2 linked regions of the Homo sapiens genome follow. The protein of the gene in region 1 interacts with the protein of each later gene in a pairwise test. Each region holds a gene or a part of one and is shown in the gene's direction. Other genes may lie near its edges.

Region 1 (8,915 bases):
GAAATCATTAAGTCATGAATATATGATGTTGATGTCTGCTCTGGGACATTTTACCAAGTGTGTTATATGTCATAGCCAACATGTAATTAAAAAAAAAAAACGTAGAGATTTGTGAATCAGAGTCCTCTGTTCAAATACCAGCCCTTCCACTTAGCCACACAATCTTTGGTAGGTTACTTCATCTTCTTGAGACTGGGTTTCTTCATCTGTATATGCATATGAAGCACCTGAGTGCTTTTTAAATGTTTAGTAATTGTGTTCTATAAGTGTACATGTAAGTTATGAAACTTAGTTTTGAAATCTAAAACTTAACAACTCAGATGCGAAATCTTTCCAATGTTTAACTTTTGAACTGTCTCTTTCATCTGATTTGTAGATCCTGTGTTGCCATAAGCCCTTGGCCCACATTTAAGTGGGAATGCAGCTAGCTTGGATGTCTGAAACTTTGTAGGCGCCTCTGTCTGAATCCTGAACACAGGCACCAGGACTACTGAGAGCTCGTCATCTGTGCAGGATAGCCACACAGCAAACATGTTTGCAAAACTGAAGAAGAAAATTGCAGAAGAGACTGCTGTTGCTCAGAGGCCAGGAGGTGCTACTAGGATCCCACGGTCTGTGAGCAAGGAATCAGTTGCCTCAATGGGAGCTGACTCAGGAGATGACTTTGTAAGTACCTTTACTTAAGAAATAAAGATACTTTTGCAGGGTATTCTTCCAATAAATATTTTAAATTGCTTGATTATTTCATACCTTTCATGGTTTATAGCTGTACAAGAGCCTGTACATCTGATTCTTCTTACTCTGAGGTACCTTTTTGTTAATGTTTGGTTTGTAAATGTTAAGGTACTCTATATTTTTTTCCTTATTTTTCTGTGAGTTCCTCTCCATATTCTCTCCAGTGTCCTCTTGTACTGTTTTTCCGTCTATATACCTTATACATCTTCTTTTGCATTTCATTTCTGAAAATGTCTGGGCCTGTTTTCATTGCAGACATATATACTTATATAACAACTAAGTCATTGCTGCTTAACAAGGTCTCTGAGTTGTGGTATGGGGTTAGCAAGAGTGCATTGTTGTATTGGGACGATTGTTGGAAAGATGGCCCCAGTGATTACAGTATGTTGCTTTTTTTCTTTTTTCTTTCTTTTTTTTTTTTTTTTGAGATGGATTCTCGCTCTGTAGCCCAAAGTGGAGTGCAGTGGCCTGATCTTGGTTCACCACAACCTCTGCCTCTGGGGCTCAAGCAATTCTCGTGCCTCAGCCTCCCGAGTAGCTGGGACTACAGGTGTGTTCCACCATGCCTGGCTAATTTTTTGTATTTTAGTAGAGACAGGTTTTTACCATGTTGCCCAGGGTGGTCTCAAACTCCTGAGCTCAGGCGATCCGCCCACCTTGGCCTCCCAAAGTGCTGGGATTACAGGCGTGAGCCACCATGCCCAGCCTACAATATGTTTCTTATTAGTAAAATACATTTGTGACTATAAGATTTCAAAAAATGAAGATGTTGCTATATGAGGGAAATGTCATGCTTAAAAAATAAAGTGTGGCTTTTGCATATGACAGGATCCTCTTAAGTTAGATAAATTTCTTTTCTCTTCTTTTTTTTTTTTTTGAGACAGAGTCTCACTCTGTCAGCCAGGCCGGAGTGCAGTGGCATGATCTCAGCTCATTGCATCCTCCACCTCCCGGGTTCAAGCAGTTCTCCTGCCTCAGCCTCCCAAGTAGCTGGGACTGCAGGTGCCCACGACCACACCCGGCTAATTTTTTTTTGTTTTTAGTTTATTGTTTTTGAGATAGGGTCTCGCTCTGTCACCTAGGGTGGAGTGCAGCAGCACAATCTCGGCTCACTGCAACCTCCATCTCCCGGGTTCAGGCGATTCTCCTGCCTCAGCCTCCTGAGTAGCTTGGGACTACAGGCACCCGCCACCACGTCCAGCTAATTTTTGTATTTTTAGTAGAGACAGAGTTTCACTGTGTTGGCCAGGCTGGTCTGGAACTCCTGACCTCGTGATCCTCCCGCGTCGGTCTCCCAAAGTGCTAGGATTACAGGGGTGAGCCACCACACTTGGCAATAAATTTCTTTAAAACTCATTTATAATGCTGGATATATATATAAAAGAATGTATGTAATATATATGTAAAGTATAAAGCATAAAGTAAATCTATCACTCATCTGAAGAGATAGAACACTATCAATTCTGTTAAGCCACTTATATGTTTCTTCCAATTTCCTCTACCCAATTTAGGATAGCATAACCACTATTCTAAATTTTGTATTTTTCATTTACTTGCTTTTTAAAATATCTTACCAGATATGTATGTATTCATAAACAATTTATTATTTAATACTGCTTGTTTTTGAAGTTATAAAAGTTGCACACTGTAGACTTCTTGGATTTCCTTTTTTAAAATTTAATTCAACATGCTTATAAAATGCATCCATGTTACAGGAAGCTGTGGTTCATTTATTTTTACTGCTGTATAAGATTCCAGGCTGGACACAGAAGCTCACGCCTGTAATCCCAATGCTTTGGGAAGCTAAGGCGGAAGGACTGCTTGAGGCCAGAAGTTCAAGACCAGCTTGGGCAACATAGCAAGACTGCATATCTACAAAAGTTTTTTTTTTTTTTTTTAATTTGCCTGGTTGGTGGTGGTATGCCTGTAGTCCTAGCTTCTTGGGAGGCAGAGGCAAGAGGATCGCTTGAGCCCAGGAGTTTGGGATTGTAGTGAGCTATGATCGTGCCACTGTACTCCAGCTTAGGCAACAGAGCAAGACTCTGTCTCTAAAGATTTTTTTTAAAAAAAAGATCCCAGCATTTGAAAAGGCCACATTTAATGTCTGTCTTCTCCTGGCGATAGACATTTGAATTGTTTCCGTTGTCAGATGAGTCTTCCTCCTGCTTTCTTGTACTGCCTGGATCCCAGGTCAGATTACATGGCAGAAGTTATTAGGTTATCGGGATGGAGCAATAAGATTACCAGATCTACATTATCACTGGCTCCTATATTTAAGAGGAAATATAAGCACACATTTGAGCATCGGGCTGAAGGATGTAGTTTTAAGGCTGGGTTCTGTGACAGATGGACCTGTTTTGCCTTCATGCTGACACCCTAAATGAAGTCTTTTATTTAGTAATGTATTCCAAATACAGAGATTGACCCAGATTCAGGAAGTAATTTATTTTGGGGTTTCTCAAGTTTTGAACTTAATACAGCCTGATCCTCAGTTCCTATCTCCAGACCCTTATATCCAACTGCATATGTTTCTCCAAACAGATCCCTCCTCTGTGGCATCTCAAATTCTAAATGAACAAAATTGAATTCATTATTTCCATCTCCAAATGTGCACCTTCATCTTCCCAAGTCACCAGCCAGAAACCCTGGAGGTATTTTAGGCTCTTCCCTCCTTTCACTTCTTGGTGTCCAATCAGTCAACACGTATTATGGCTTCTATTTCTTTCTTTTTTTTTTTTTTTTTTGGAGACAGAGTCTTGCTGTGTCGCCCAGGCTGGACCCTGGGTTCAAGCAATTCTCCTGCCTCACTCAGCCTCCCAAGTAGCTGGGACTACAGGCACACACCGCCACACTTGGCTAGTTTTTTGTATTTTTAGTAGAGATGAGGTTTCACCGTGTGCCCAGTCTGGTCTTGAACTCCTGAGTTCAGGCAATCCTCTTGCCTTGGCCTCCCAAAGTGCTAGGATTACAGGCAGCTTTCATTTCTTAAATGTCTCAAACTTGCCTCCCTACTCCATCTTCTAGTAGTACATTTACTAGCAGAGGTTAAGCATCCCTAATCTGAAAATTTGAAATCTGAAATACTCCAAAATCTTAAACTTTTTGAGCGCCAACATGGCCACAAGTGGAAAATTTACACATAAATACTTAACACAACTTTGTTTAATGCATATCATTTAAAATATTGTATAAAATTATGTTCAGGCTATGTGTATAAAACGTATATGGAACATAATTTCACGTTTACACTTGGGTCCCATCCCCAAAATATTATATTATGTATATGCAGACATTCCAAAATCTGAAAAAATCCAAACTCCAAAACACTTCTGATCCTAAACTGTTTGGGCAAGAGATACTCAACCTATACTATCATTTGATTTCAAGCTGCCTTTCTTTCTGGGACAAACTTGTAGTCTATCTGGGTTCCCTGTCCCCAAAGTGACCTTTTTTTTTCTTTGAGACAGGGATCTCTTTCTGGCACCCAGGCTGGAGTGCAGTGGCCCGATCACAGCCCACTGCAGCCTTAACCTCCTGGGCTCAAGCGATTCTCCCATTTCAGCCTCGTGAGTAGTTGGGACTACAGGCACGTGCCGCCACACCCAGCTAATTTTTGTATTTTTTGTAGCGACGGAGTTTTGCCATGTTGCTTAGGCTGGTCTCGAACTCCTGGGCTCAAACGATCTGCCCACCTTGGCCTCCCAAAGTACTGGGACTGCAGGTGCTAGCCACTGTGCACAGCCCAAAGTGATCTTTCTAAAAGCAGATCTGTTCATGTCTCTCCAGTACTTAAAACTCATAAAACTCAGTGGCTTCCCCATTATTTTCAGGATGAAGTACAGACTCATTATTATAGCATAATGGTAAACTGTCATGGTCTTCTCTCAGCTTATATGGCCAGCATTATCTCACTGTACTTTGCTACACCCTGTGCCACAGCCAGACTGAATTTATTGCACTTTCTAGAATGGACCACATTCTTTCATGCTTACAATTTTTGCACATGCTATTTCCTCTCTCTAGAATGTCTCATTTCCCCTTTCACTCCTGCATTCCTCTGACAGACTCTTGTGCATCTTAAGACTCAGCTCATGTGTTACTTCCAGCAAACTCCCTTGACCTGACCTTCTCCTCTGGCAGCCCCCTACCCTTTACCCCTCCTGGCTGTTTGGTGCCTTGTCTTCTGCTAACCTCTGTAATAGCACCTGCTGTACTGCATTATTATTGATGATTTGCTTGTTTGTCTCTTCCACTGAACTGGGAGTTTCATGAAAGACAATAAAGTGTAGCCCTTAGGAACTCAGGTCAGGTTATAGAGTCATATCTGCTCTATTATTATTATGTGACTTTGGGCAAATTTCTTCATTTTTCCTTGCCTTATTTTTCACATCTATAAAATGGGGATAGGAACTGTATCTACCTTTATTAAAGTATGTGTGTCAAGGATCCCCAAGATCATCCCCAGATTTAATTATTCACTAGGAGGACTCACAAGACTCACCATATAGTTTTACTCACTGCTATCATTTATTACAGTGAAAGGATCTAAAACAGACTCAGCAAAGGGAAAAGGTGCATGGGGAAAAGCTTGGAGGAAACAGGTGCAAGCTTCCAAGATTCTTCTCCCAGTGGAATTACATAGGACATGCTCCATTCTCCCAGCAATGAGTTGTGACAACACATGTAAAATGTCTACCAGGGAAGCTCATTAGAGACTCAGTGTCCAGGCTTTTTATTGGGGACTGGTCATGTGAACACCCTCTGCCTACTATGTATCAAAATTCCAGAATCCAGGCCAGGCAGGGTGGCTCACACCTGTAATCCCAGCACTTTGGGGGACCAAGGCAGATGGATCAGTTGAGGTCAGGAATTTGAGACCAGCCTGGCCAACATGGCGAAACCCTGTCTCTACTAAAAATACAAATATTAGCTGAGCATGGTGACACACACCTGTAGTCCCAGCTACTCAGGAGGCAGGAGAATCTCTTGAACCCAAGAGGCAGAGGTTACAGTGAGCCAACATTGTACCACTGCACTCCAGCCTGGGTGACAGAGCGAGACTCTGTCTAAATAAATAAATAAATAAATAAATAATCCAGACTCCAGAAGGAAACCAGGTATTCAGCATAAACCCATATTTTTGCACAAACATTTTAGGCACAATGAGCCATTCTTAACAGAATGATGGGAACCCTCCCAAAATCTAAGTTCCCAGATGCCAGCCAAGGACCAACCTTAAAAGCAGGCCTTTCTAAGGATAACAGTCTGAGGCCTGTAATGTCAGTTCTTCTGCGTAGAATCTAAAGCACTTAGCATGGCGTCTGGCTCTAAGCATTTCATAATTAGCTTCTGTTGCTGCTGCTGCTGTTATTTTGGATAGGAGCTCTTTGTTTCACCACTATTCCTAGTGCTTAGCACAGTAGTGAGACATAGGATGTCTCCTATGTCTCACTAACAGTAATAATCATAACAGCTTCTTATACTGCTAGTGGTGTGGTCTGAATGTATGTCTCCAAAAATTGATATGTTGAAACCTAATCACTAGAGTGATGGAATGAGGAGGTGAATCGTCTCCGAGATGATTAGCTCATGAGGGAGGAACCCTCATGAATGAGATTAGTGCTCTTACAAAAGAGGCCCCAGAAAGCTGCCTTGCCCCTTCCACCATGTGAGGGCACAGCTAGAAGGTGTCATGTATGAACCAGAAAGTGGGTCTTCACTAGACACCAAATCTGCTGGCACCTTAATTTTGGACTTCCTAGGCTCCAGAACTGTGAGAAATACATTTCTGTTGTTTATAAGTCACACATTCTATGGCATTTCATTATAGCACTCAAACAGACTAAGACAACTAGTAATAGATGACACATATTAAAGCTAATATGTGCCAGGCTGTGTTTTAGGGATTTGACAAGTATTGATTTACTTAATCCTCATCACAGCTCTGTGAGGCAAATGCTGTTTGTTATCACAGATTGCAAATGAGGAAACCAGTGCACAGAGAAGTTGAGTAATGAGCCTAAGTTCTTACAGCTCGTAAGTGGTAAAGCTGCAACCTGAAGCAAGGTTTTCTGACACCAGAGACTCTCCTCTTAACTGTCCACTGTCCTGACTCTCAGTACATATTGGATGGGCAAGTGGCTGGACATGTAGATGAATATTTGAGGTGAATTATTGAATAATCTTTAAAAACATTTTGGGGATACAATGGGAAACATGATTAAGGACTGGATGTTAGTATTTTTTGTTAGGAATGATAATCATATGTTGCCTATGAAGAGAAATAGCCTTAATTTTTGGAGTATTTAGGATGAAATGCCATGATGTCTGTTATTTAAATTACTTCAGAAAAATAAAAATTGATGAAGCAAATAAGGGAAAGCATCAGCAATTGTGAAAGTAGATGGAGAGCATTATTTAGACCAATCTCTCTCCCTTTCTATATTTTGAAAAATTGTATAATGAAAAGTAAAAGAGATTTTAAAAACTGAGTTATTAGCAATTGCAAGCAGTGCCTATAGCAATAGTAGTATTCATTTATTTTAAAATAATCTGGTTTGTTGGGGAAAAATGTATGCCTCATTAATATATTGGTTTGTTGAATGCATATTATCTGCTGAAGTCTATGATGCAAGTTAGAGTTTTAGATTGATATCCGTTTGTTTCATAGATGAAGATACTGAAACTTTATCAATATCGGTGAAAGATTCGTAGTCATAGACCAGCTTTTGATCCCTAAAGAACCCCCGCCTTCTTTATCCCAGGACTTTACTTTTGGAAAGATAAAGTGATTTTTTTATCATGGCAAATATAGTTTTTGTATTATATACTTGCTGTAATAATGGATCTATTTACTATTATTTATTTCAGTAGCATGCGTACACATAAAATTGATCTGTTTAGCATCTCCTCTCTCCTTCACTTTATAAGAGGAAGAAAGCGTTGCTTCCACTTTCCAGGTAGAGAAACTAGGCCCAGCTTTTCAGTGATTACAATTAATTAAAGTGTAACCAAACCTAAAATAAGACTTGTCACTTTCTGGCTCAGTATTGTGGTCTCACACATATATGAATACGACCTTCCTTGTGTCTACCTCAACAGGCTTCCGATGGAAGCAGCTCCAGAGAAGATCTTTCATCCCAGCTTCTGAGAAGGAATGAACAGATACGGAAGTTAGAGGCCAGACTTTCTGGTATGTCTAAGAACTCATAAAAAGCAAACAACAGGAAACTTGCCTTGCTTGACTCTCTTCCTATAAAATAGCCATATAGGATGACTTTATAGTTATTTTCACATATCATTTTGATCTTTTTAGAAAGGAGCAAGTATACCCTCTTCTTTTGTTAGTGTAGTAAATAGTATAAATTCAAAACTGAATTTGAAAGTTTATTAAAAAATTTTTTCTGCTCCTGAGGTTTCTAGCCATGGAAATAAAAGATAATAATAATATATGTACAATAGATTTGACCATCTTCCACCATTAGCATAGCCTGCTTTCAGGTGGAAAGGGATGGCGTTAGTATTTAAAGGGAATGGCCAACAGATATTGGATTCATCAGCACCAGAGATTGGTGCTGTGTTGCCACTTCCTGCAGCTCATACCACCTGTGTAAGTGTTGTTGTAGGTCTTTGGGCCACTTTTCAATGGTATTTCTGACTTCAGCACCTGCATAGAAGGTGTCACTCTCATTATGTCTTTTGTCTGCAGTTTACAATTTACACAGCTCCCATTATATCCTTTGCCTGAGGAGGGCATGGTCATGATAGAATTGTGAGTTATTATTTTGGTTTCTGCCAGTGGATACATTTGGAAAGCTTCATCCTGTAAAGTGGTTCATGGCTTCTGTGTCTCTTTTTGTCCCTTGGCCTTTTAATGCCCATTTTATTGGAGTAAAACAGCAGACCGAAGTTCACCAAGTGGTATGTGAAATATTTATATTTGTGTAGCTATCAGACCCAAATTCACCAAATTGTATGTGAAGTATTTGTATTTATGTAGTTATCAAAGGTTCATAGCATAGCTCACAACTACCAGTTAATTATTTTGTCCTCACTAGAGCCTTATTAGGCTTAGCAAGGTTAAGGCCTCACAAGTAGTAAGTGGTAGAGCTGGGATCCAAACCCAGATTTATTTGATGCTAGAGTCTTAATTCCATCTGCCTTAAACTTAATTGTTGCTA
Region 2 (8,127 bases), on another chromosome or scaffold:
AGCAATACACTTGACATGGCATTACTACTTAAAATATATACAGAACTCAAATAACAGTAGTAAGAAAACAACCCAATTTTAAAATTAGCAAAGATAATCCCAGCAGTTTGGAAGGCTGAGGAGGGAGGATCACTTGAGGCCAGGAGTTCAAGACCAGCTGGAGCAACATGGGGAAACCCTGTAAAAATACAAACATTAGCTGGGCCTGGTGGAGCAAGCCTGTAGTCTCAGCTACTCAGGAGGCTGAGGCATGAGAATTACTTGAACCCAGGAGGTGGAGGTTGCAGTGAGCCAAGATTGTGCCACTGCATTCCAGCTTGGGTGATAGAGCAAGAATCTCTCTGTCTCAAAAAAAATAAAATAAAATAAAAGGGAATACTATGCAGCCATAAAAAAGGATGAGTTCATGTCCTCTGTAGGGACATGGATGAAGCTGGAAACCATCATTCTCAGCAAACTGTCACAGGGACAAAAAACCAAACACCACATGTTCTCACTCATAGGTGGGAATTGAACAATGAGAACACTTGGACACGGGAAGGGGAACATCACACACCGGGGCCTGTCATGGGCTTGGGGGAGGGGGGAGGGATAGCATTAGGAGATATACCTAATGTAAATGACGAGTTAATGGGTGCAGCACACAAACATGGCACATGTATGCATATGTAACAAACCTGCACATTGTGCACATGTACCCTAGAACTTAAAGTATAATAAAAAAAAGAAAAAAGGAAGTTCATCTGATGGTCTTGAATGCTTCTGTAGAAAAAGAAACCAAACTGTATTTGTGTATGATGTGAATTGGTTTTGCCCAATACAGTCTTCAGCAAATTTTCCATGACTTAGGAGATACTTCCTTAATATTCTCTATATGTATTCTAAATTGATATTTTATTAAAATTTTGAGTGGAGCATATAATCCCATTAGTGCTGGGAAGCAGGAAAAAGTAGGTCACTTTGCTTTATTCTTCAAAACCAATTAACTGTAGAGTTCATGAACAATTGAATACTTGGAAGTGCTACATCTTAATGAATTTTCCAAATACATATTAAAGTGTACAACCATGTTAATTTTCTTTTCTTTTCTTTTTGTGTAGGATCCCAATGAAGATACAGAATGGAATGACATTTTAAGAGATTTCGGCATTCTTCCTCCTAAAGAAGAGTCAAAAGATGAAATTGAAGAAATGGTTTTACGTTTACAGAAAGAAGCAATGGGTATGGTCGTAGATTTGGTGGGCTGGATGATGGGAATAATACAGTTAAGTTAGTACTAAGGTATTTCATGAACATAGTGGGAGAGAGGACATTAGAAATCATTTAGTATAGGCTGGGCATGGTGGCTCACACCTGTAATCCCAGCACTTTGGGAGGCTGAGGCCAGCGGATCACGAGGTCAGGAGATCGAGACCATCCTGGCTAACACGGTGAAACCCCATCTCTACTAAAAATACAAAAACAAAATTAGCCAGGTGTGGTGGTGGGTGCCTGTAGTCCCAGCTACTCAGGAGGCTGAGGCAGTAGAATGGCATGAACCTAGGAGATGGAGCTTGCAGTGAGCTGAGATCGTGCCACTGCACTCCTGCACTGCTCTGGGCAACAGAGCAAGACTCCATCTCAAAAAACAAAACAAATAAACATTTAATATAACCCCCCTCAACTACTTTCAGTATTTGGATATGACACCTAAAATGACTAATTTCACATGTTGAAAATCACATGCTAATAACAGAGCTGAAATATCCTGGTGTGTAACCAAGTGAGCTTTCTTCTCCCACCATGTCCCTCTGCCTTATTACCATCTATTTTGATCATTCTTTATAGTATGTATTATTTATCAAGATTTCTAGGTACTTGAGGGAAATCTAAATTTATGAAATCTAATTGATTTTCATACCTAGTTTTAAATGTAGCCTGTCAGTTCTATGAACTTTGAGGGAGTAATACTTTAATATTATACTTTCTATAATATTTATAGCTTTTTTTGGTGGCTGGCTGCTTTATGTTTGTTTAAAGATACTCTTTTTTGTTTGTTTTTTTGAGACCAAGTCTAACTTTGTTGGCCAGGGTGGAATGCAGTGGTGCGATCTCAGCTCACTGCAAACTCAGCCATTCGGGTTCAAGTGATTCTCCTGCCTCAGCCTCCCGAGTAGCTAGGATTACAGGTGCCTGCCACCACACCTGACTAATTTTTGTATTTTTAGTAGAGATAGGGTTTCACCATGTTGGCCAGGTTGGTCTTGAACTCCTGACCTAAAGTGATCCACCCACCTCGACCTATCAAAGTACTGGGATTCCATCGCACCCGGCTGTTTAAAGATACTGTTGATCTCCTTTGTATAAGACGGTTTTTTTCTAGACATTGACTGTATAGTAAAAAAATTTTTAAACAATTTGATAATCTATAATTTATGTTGTTTTAGTGAAACCATTTGAAAAGATGACTCTTGCACAGCTAAAGGAAGCTGAAGATGAATTTGATGAAGAAGATATGCAGGCTGTTGAAACATATAGGTACAGTGATTCATTTGGGTTAATTATAAATTTTTGAATGAAGTATAATAAGAATAAAACTAAAGAGATTTGTCTTGTCACATAGATTTTACAAAGAACAAAACTAATTTTTAAGTAACATTTTGAAACTCCCTTTATATAAGGTGGAATTTTATTACATCATTACATCATTTTTTCTTAATATTTTGCCTTTGATTTAATAGAAAATTATCCAATCATGTACAATATAACTTCATCAAGCTACATACGATTAAAGTGGAAAATAGCAATAAGAGGCCAATAAAAAGATGGCCATGATTTTCCTTCTAGCATGATGTCTGTCAAAGGTGACTATCATTTCATGAATAATTAATTACTATTCTTAAATTATTTTAGAAACTGGAACAGGTTCATAAATTTCCCAACTTACTTCACAACTAAAATAAGTTGGGAAATGTATGAACCTGTTCTAATTTCTAAAGTACTTTTTACAAGACCAGTATTTATCCTGATACTAAAACCAGACAAAGACATCACTAAAACAGAGTACTACAAATATCCCTCATGACTGTAAACACAAAATCTTTAAGGAAATATTGGCAAATTAAGTCCAGCAATTTAAGGAAATAATAAATCTTGATCAAGTAGTATTGATTGCAGGAATGCAAGATCATTTTAACAATAAAAAAACAGTGGACCAGGCACAGTGGCTCATGCTTGTAATCCTAGCACTTTGGGAGGCTGAGGCAGACGGATCACCTGAGGTCGGGAGTTTGAGACCAGCCTGACCAACATGCAGAAACCCCGTCTCTACTAAAAATACAAAGTTAGCCAGGCATGGTGGTGCTTGCCTGTAATCCCAGCTACTCTGGAGGCTGAGGCAGGAGAATCGCTTGAACCCGGTGGGGCAGAGGTTGTGGTGAGCCAAGATTGCGCCATTGCACTCCAGCCTGGGCAACAAGAGCGAAACTCCACCTCGAAAAAAAAAACAAACAAAAAACCAGTGAATTGGGGCTGGGCACAGTGGCTCATGCCTGTAATCTCAGACTTTGGGAGGCTATGGTGGGAGGATTGCTTGAGGCTAGGAGTTACAGACCAGCCTGGTCAACATAGTAAGACCCTGTCTCTACAAAACAAAAATAAAAACCAAAAGCCACCAGTGAATGGAGTTACAACAGCCATACTCCAGGAGCAATGAGCACATATAGCACTCAGATCTTTCTGAGGCAGGGTGCGGTGACCCACACCTGTAATTCCAGCACTTTGGAAGGCCAAGGCGGGTGGATCACCTGAGGTCAGGAGTTTGAAACCAGCCTGGCAAACATGATGAAACCCGTGTCTTTAAATTAGCCAGGCGTTGTAGCACATGCCTGTAATCCCAGCTACTTGAGAAGCTGAGGCAGGAGAATCGCTGAACCTGGGAGGTGGAGGTTGCAGTGAGCCAAGATCGTGCCATTGCACTCCAGCCTGGGCAACAAGAGTGAAACTCCATCTCAAACAAACAAACAAACAAACAAAAAACAAATAAATACTATTCTCTAATAACAGGAATTAGTGCTCCTTAGCGAACTGCTTGATCCCACGGTGTGTGTTAGGAAAGTATAATATGAATATGAAGCATCTTATGTTGCCAGTAGGTAAGGAAGTACTTAAAAAAAAAAAAAGTCCCAGGAGTCAAATGGACAGATCTCCCAAGGGCCAAAGTTAGAACAACTTGAACAACAAAATCAATAATTATATGATAGGATTGTAAAGCAAATAATGAAATAAATTTATAAAAGTCCATAGTGATATAAATAAATAACTTAATACATGAACAAATTTGGAAGAAGTAATCTCTCTCCCTTACAGAAGAGTTTTAATTAATAAGTGTAAATGAAATTAGAGAAATAGAAAAATCACCATCAGAACAGTGGTAATTTCCTATGGGTAAGATCCAGTGATGGATGCTAAAATGATTGGTTGAAAGTTTAAACACAAACAGGATATTGCATAATTTCAAAGAATTCTTCCCCAAATATTTAGTAATTATAAAGGAGGAAATAGTAAGTTTATAGGCAGATACTATCTTAGGCAGATGATCAAGGTTAATATCACCAGTAAAATATGCTGGGAGGTGATCAAGTAACCCCTGGTATGTTGTACTGAGAAGGACATATCACCTCTGTGGTATCATTTTCAGTAATGCATAACTTTAATTATAAGAAAACTTCAAATAAACCCTAATTGAAGAACTCATTAAAAAAAAAAACCCACTGATGACACATCAGGGAAAATAGCAGAATAGGGAACTCCAAAAATACATCTCTACCTAATCAAAGATTGTACTAGCAGGAACTGTCTGAAGTGACTGTTTTAGTACTCTGGAGAATATTGAATGCTTGTAGTTTCCAAGTGAAAACTTGGCTGGTAAATGGCAGTATCAGTTGATTTCAGCCCTCAGTTCAGTAGCAGCTGTTCATGCTCAACCCCTAGCTCCATGACAGGCAGCTGACAACCTGTATTTCTGACACAGCTTGCTGGAGCCAGGGTGGACAATAAGGACCTTTTCCTCCAAATATTGGGGTTCTGTGTTCTTATTACAGATTGCTCCTTCTGAACATGGATGTACAGGGACAGAGGCTCACTGCCATTGTGTGAACTCCCACTGGCTCAGGCAGCTATCAGAGAATTTAAAAGAGCTATAACCTTTTTTAAAGATTCAAAACAAACTGTGCTTTTGGGAAAATATAGAAAGCCAGTGCATTTACTCCGGGGAAGATGCAGGCTCAAAAAATACCTGAGAAGACCTTAAAGCTTCTACCTCAGAATGATCGCCAGCACAAAGACAGCCTACAACAATTAAAACAAAAACAAAAACAAAACCCCAGCAAAGGAGGAGAACTTATTTCCAAAGTTACCACATTATAGGATTCAAATATCTAGTTTTCAACAAAAATCACAAGGCATACACAAACAAGAAAGTATAGTCCATTCAAAGGAACAAAATATACTGACAGAAAATGTACTTGAGGAAGCCCAGAAGTCAGACTTACTAGACAAAGACTTTAAGACAACTATCTTACGGATGCTTAAAGAGCTAAAAAGATAGGAATATAATGTATGATCAAAAAGAGAATATCAATAAAGAAATAGAAGTTATAAACAGGAATAAAAGATATTCTGGAACTGTGATAATGAGAAATATATATCTGATCTTTGTCCCCAGTTCCTGACACAAACATACTTGGAATTTGCTAGGTGATAAAAGTACCTTTGGTATGCTTATGAGATGATCCTTGGTGGAGGGGATCCTAGTAGCTTTAGGATGAGGGCTGGTTGCCAGAGGAACCAACCATGTGATTAGAAGGTTAGAACTTTTAACACTATTCCCTGCTCTCTGGAGAGGGGAGAGGGGCTAGAGATTGAGTTAATCACCAGTGGCCAACGATTTAGTCAATCATGCCTATCTAATGAAACCTCCATAAAAACCACTAAATGATGGTGCTGTGGTCTGAATGTTTGTGTCCCCCCCAAATTCATATGTTGAAACCTAATCCCCTCCCAATGTGATGGCATTAAGAGGTGGAGCCTTAGGGAGGTAATTAGGTCATGAGGGCTACCCCTTTATGAACGGGATTAATGCTCTTATAAAAGAGGCCTGAGAAGGCCAGGCACAGTGGCCCATGCCTGTAATCCCAGCACTTTGGGAGACCAAGGCAGGCGGATCACCTGAGTCAGGAGTTCGAACCAGCCTGGCCAACATGGTGAAACCCTGTTTCTACTAAAATACAAAAATTAGTTGGGTGTAGTGGCCTGTACCTGTAATCCCACCTACTCGGGAGGCTGAGGCAGGAGAATTGCTTGAATCTGGGAGGCAGAGGTTGCAGTGAGCCGAGATTGTGCCACTGCACTCCAGCCTGGGCGACAGAGCAAGACTCCGTCTCAAAAAAAAAAAAGGACTGAGAAATCTGGAACATGCTTTTTTTAAAATTTGTTTTGCCAGTCTTTGCCTTTAGTTGGAGATTAATCATATTAATTTAAAATTCACTTACATTTAAAGTAAGTACTGTTAAGAAAGGAGTTGCTTCTGCTACTTAGGTGTTTTCTGTATTTCTTACATAATTTTTGTTTTTTAAGTCTTCCATTACTGCTTTCTTTTCACAGTTAGCTGATTTTTCTAGTGTACCATTTTTATTTCCTTCTTCTTTCATTTTCTGTGTATCTTTTAGTTTTTTCATAGTGATTATCTTAAGGATAAAAATTAACGTCTTACAGTGGCCTACTTTGAATAATACCAACTTAGAGTCAATAGCATGTAAACACATCTCCATCCTTCTCCTTATTTGTTAGTGTCACAGACTACATTGTTATATATTGTGCATCCATTAACATAGATTATTATTATTGCTTTATGTATTTACCTTTTATATCATACAGGAAAAAAAGAGAAGTTAGAAACCAACTCTAGGCCAGGCATGATGGCTTACGCCTGTAATCCCAGTGCTTTGGGAGGCAGAGGTGGGCAAATCGCCTGAGTTCAGGAGTTTGAGACCAGCCTGGCCAACATGGTGAAACCCCGTCTCTAATAAAAATACAAAAAATTTAGCTGGGCATGGTGGCACACCCCTGTAATCCCAGCTACTCAGGAGGCTAGGTGTGAGAATTGCTTGAACCTGGGAGGCAGAGGTTGCAGTAAGCTAAGATCGCGCCACGGCACTCCAGCCTAGGCAACAAAGCAAGACTGTCTCAAAAAGAAAAAAAAAAGAAACCAATTCCAATAATGGCTTTTACATTTTCCTATGTAAAAGCCAAATGGTAATACTGGCTATTATATTTCCCTATGTAGTTAACTTCACCATGTTCCTCGTTTCTTCATGTGGCTTTGGATACTATCTGGTGCTCTTTCATTTCAGCCTGAAGGACTCCTTTCACATATTTTTTAGGCAGGTCTAGGTCCCTTGGTGTTTTTTTGTTTTTATTTTTATTTTTTAAATCTAGGAATGCATTAATTTACCCTCATTCTTGAAGCATAGTTTTGCCAAATATCGAATTCTTGCTTTTGACAGTTGTTTTCTCTCAGCATTTAAAAAATATCAACTCACTGCCTTTTTGGCTTCCAAAATTTCTGCTGAGAAACTGGCTGATAGTCTTATTGAAGATCCCTTGTATGTGATGACTTGCTTCTCTCTGCTTTCAAGATTCTCATTGTCTCTTCTTGCCTTTCAGTAGTTTATGATGTATCCCCATGTGGGTGTCTTTGAGTTTATCATACTTTTATCATACTTGGAGTTTGTTGGACACTTGAGTTTATAGATTAATGTATTTCATCAAATTTGGGAAGTTTTCAGCCATTATTTCTTAAAATATCCTTTATGCTTCTTTTCTCTCTCTTTTCTGTTGAGATTCACACAACATGTGTGTTGGTCTGCTTTATATCATCCCACAGACCCTTTAGGCCCTGTTTATTTTTTTTTCATTCTTTTTTTTTTCTCAGATTTGATCATTGCAGTTGTCCTATTTTCAAGGTTGCTGATTCTTCTGCTTCCTCAAATCTGCTTTTGGAACTCTCCAATGTATTTTTTTAATTTTAGTTACTGTACTTTTTAGTTCCTCTGGTATGTTTTACTCATACCACTTCTGACATGAAAT

The links. Proteins that work in one complex are often made in the same cells at the same time.
Region 2: the proteins of GOLGA1 (region 1) and PDCL2 interact in a two-hybrid assay, tested with the Homo sapiens proteins (2 studies listed by BioGRID).

What each region holds. Positions count from the first base shown.
Region 1 is NC_000009.12:124,930,328-124,939,242, reverse strand, and holds part of GOLGA1 (golgin subfamily A member 1), read left to right. Parts: intron 1-376; 5' UTR 377-531; coding exon 532-666; intron 667-7,836; coding exon 7,837-7,927; intron 7,928-8,915. UniProt on the Homo sapiens protein: Involved in vesicular trafficking at the Golgi apparatus level. Involved in endosome-to-Golgi trafficking. Mechanistically, captures transport vesicles arriving from endosomes via the protein TBC1D23.
Region 2 is NC_000004.12:55,575,211-55,583,337, reverse strand, and holds part of PDCL2 (phosducin-like protein 2), read left to right. Parts: intron 1-1,100; coding exon 1,101-1,221; intron 1,222-2,426; coding exon 2,427-2,517; intron 2,518-8,127. UniProt on the Homo sapiens protein: Essential for male fertility, spermiogenesis and acrosome formation.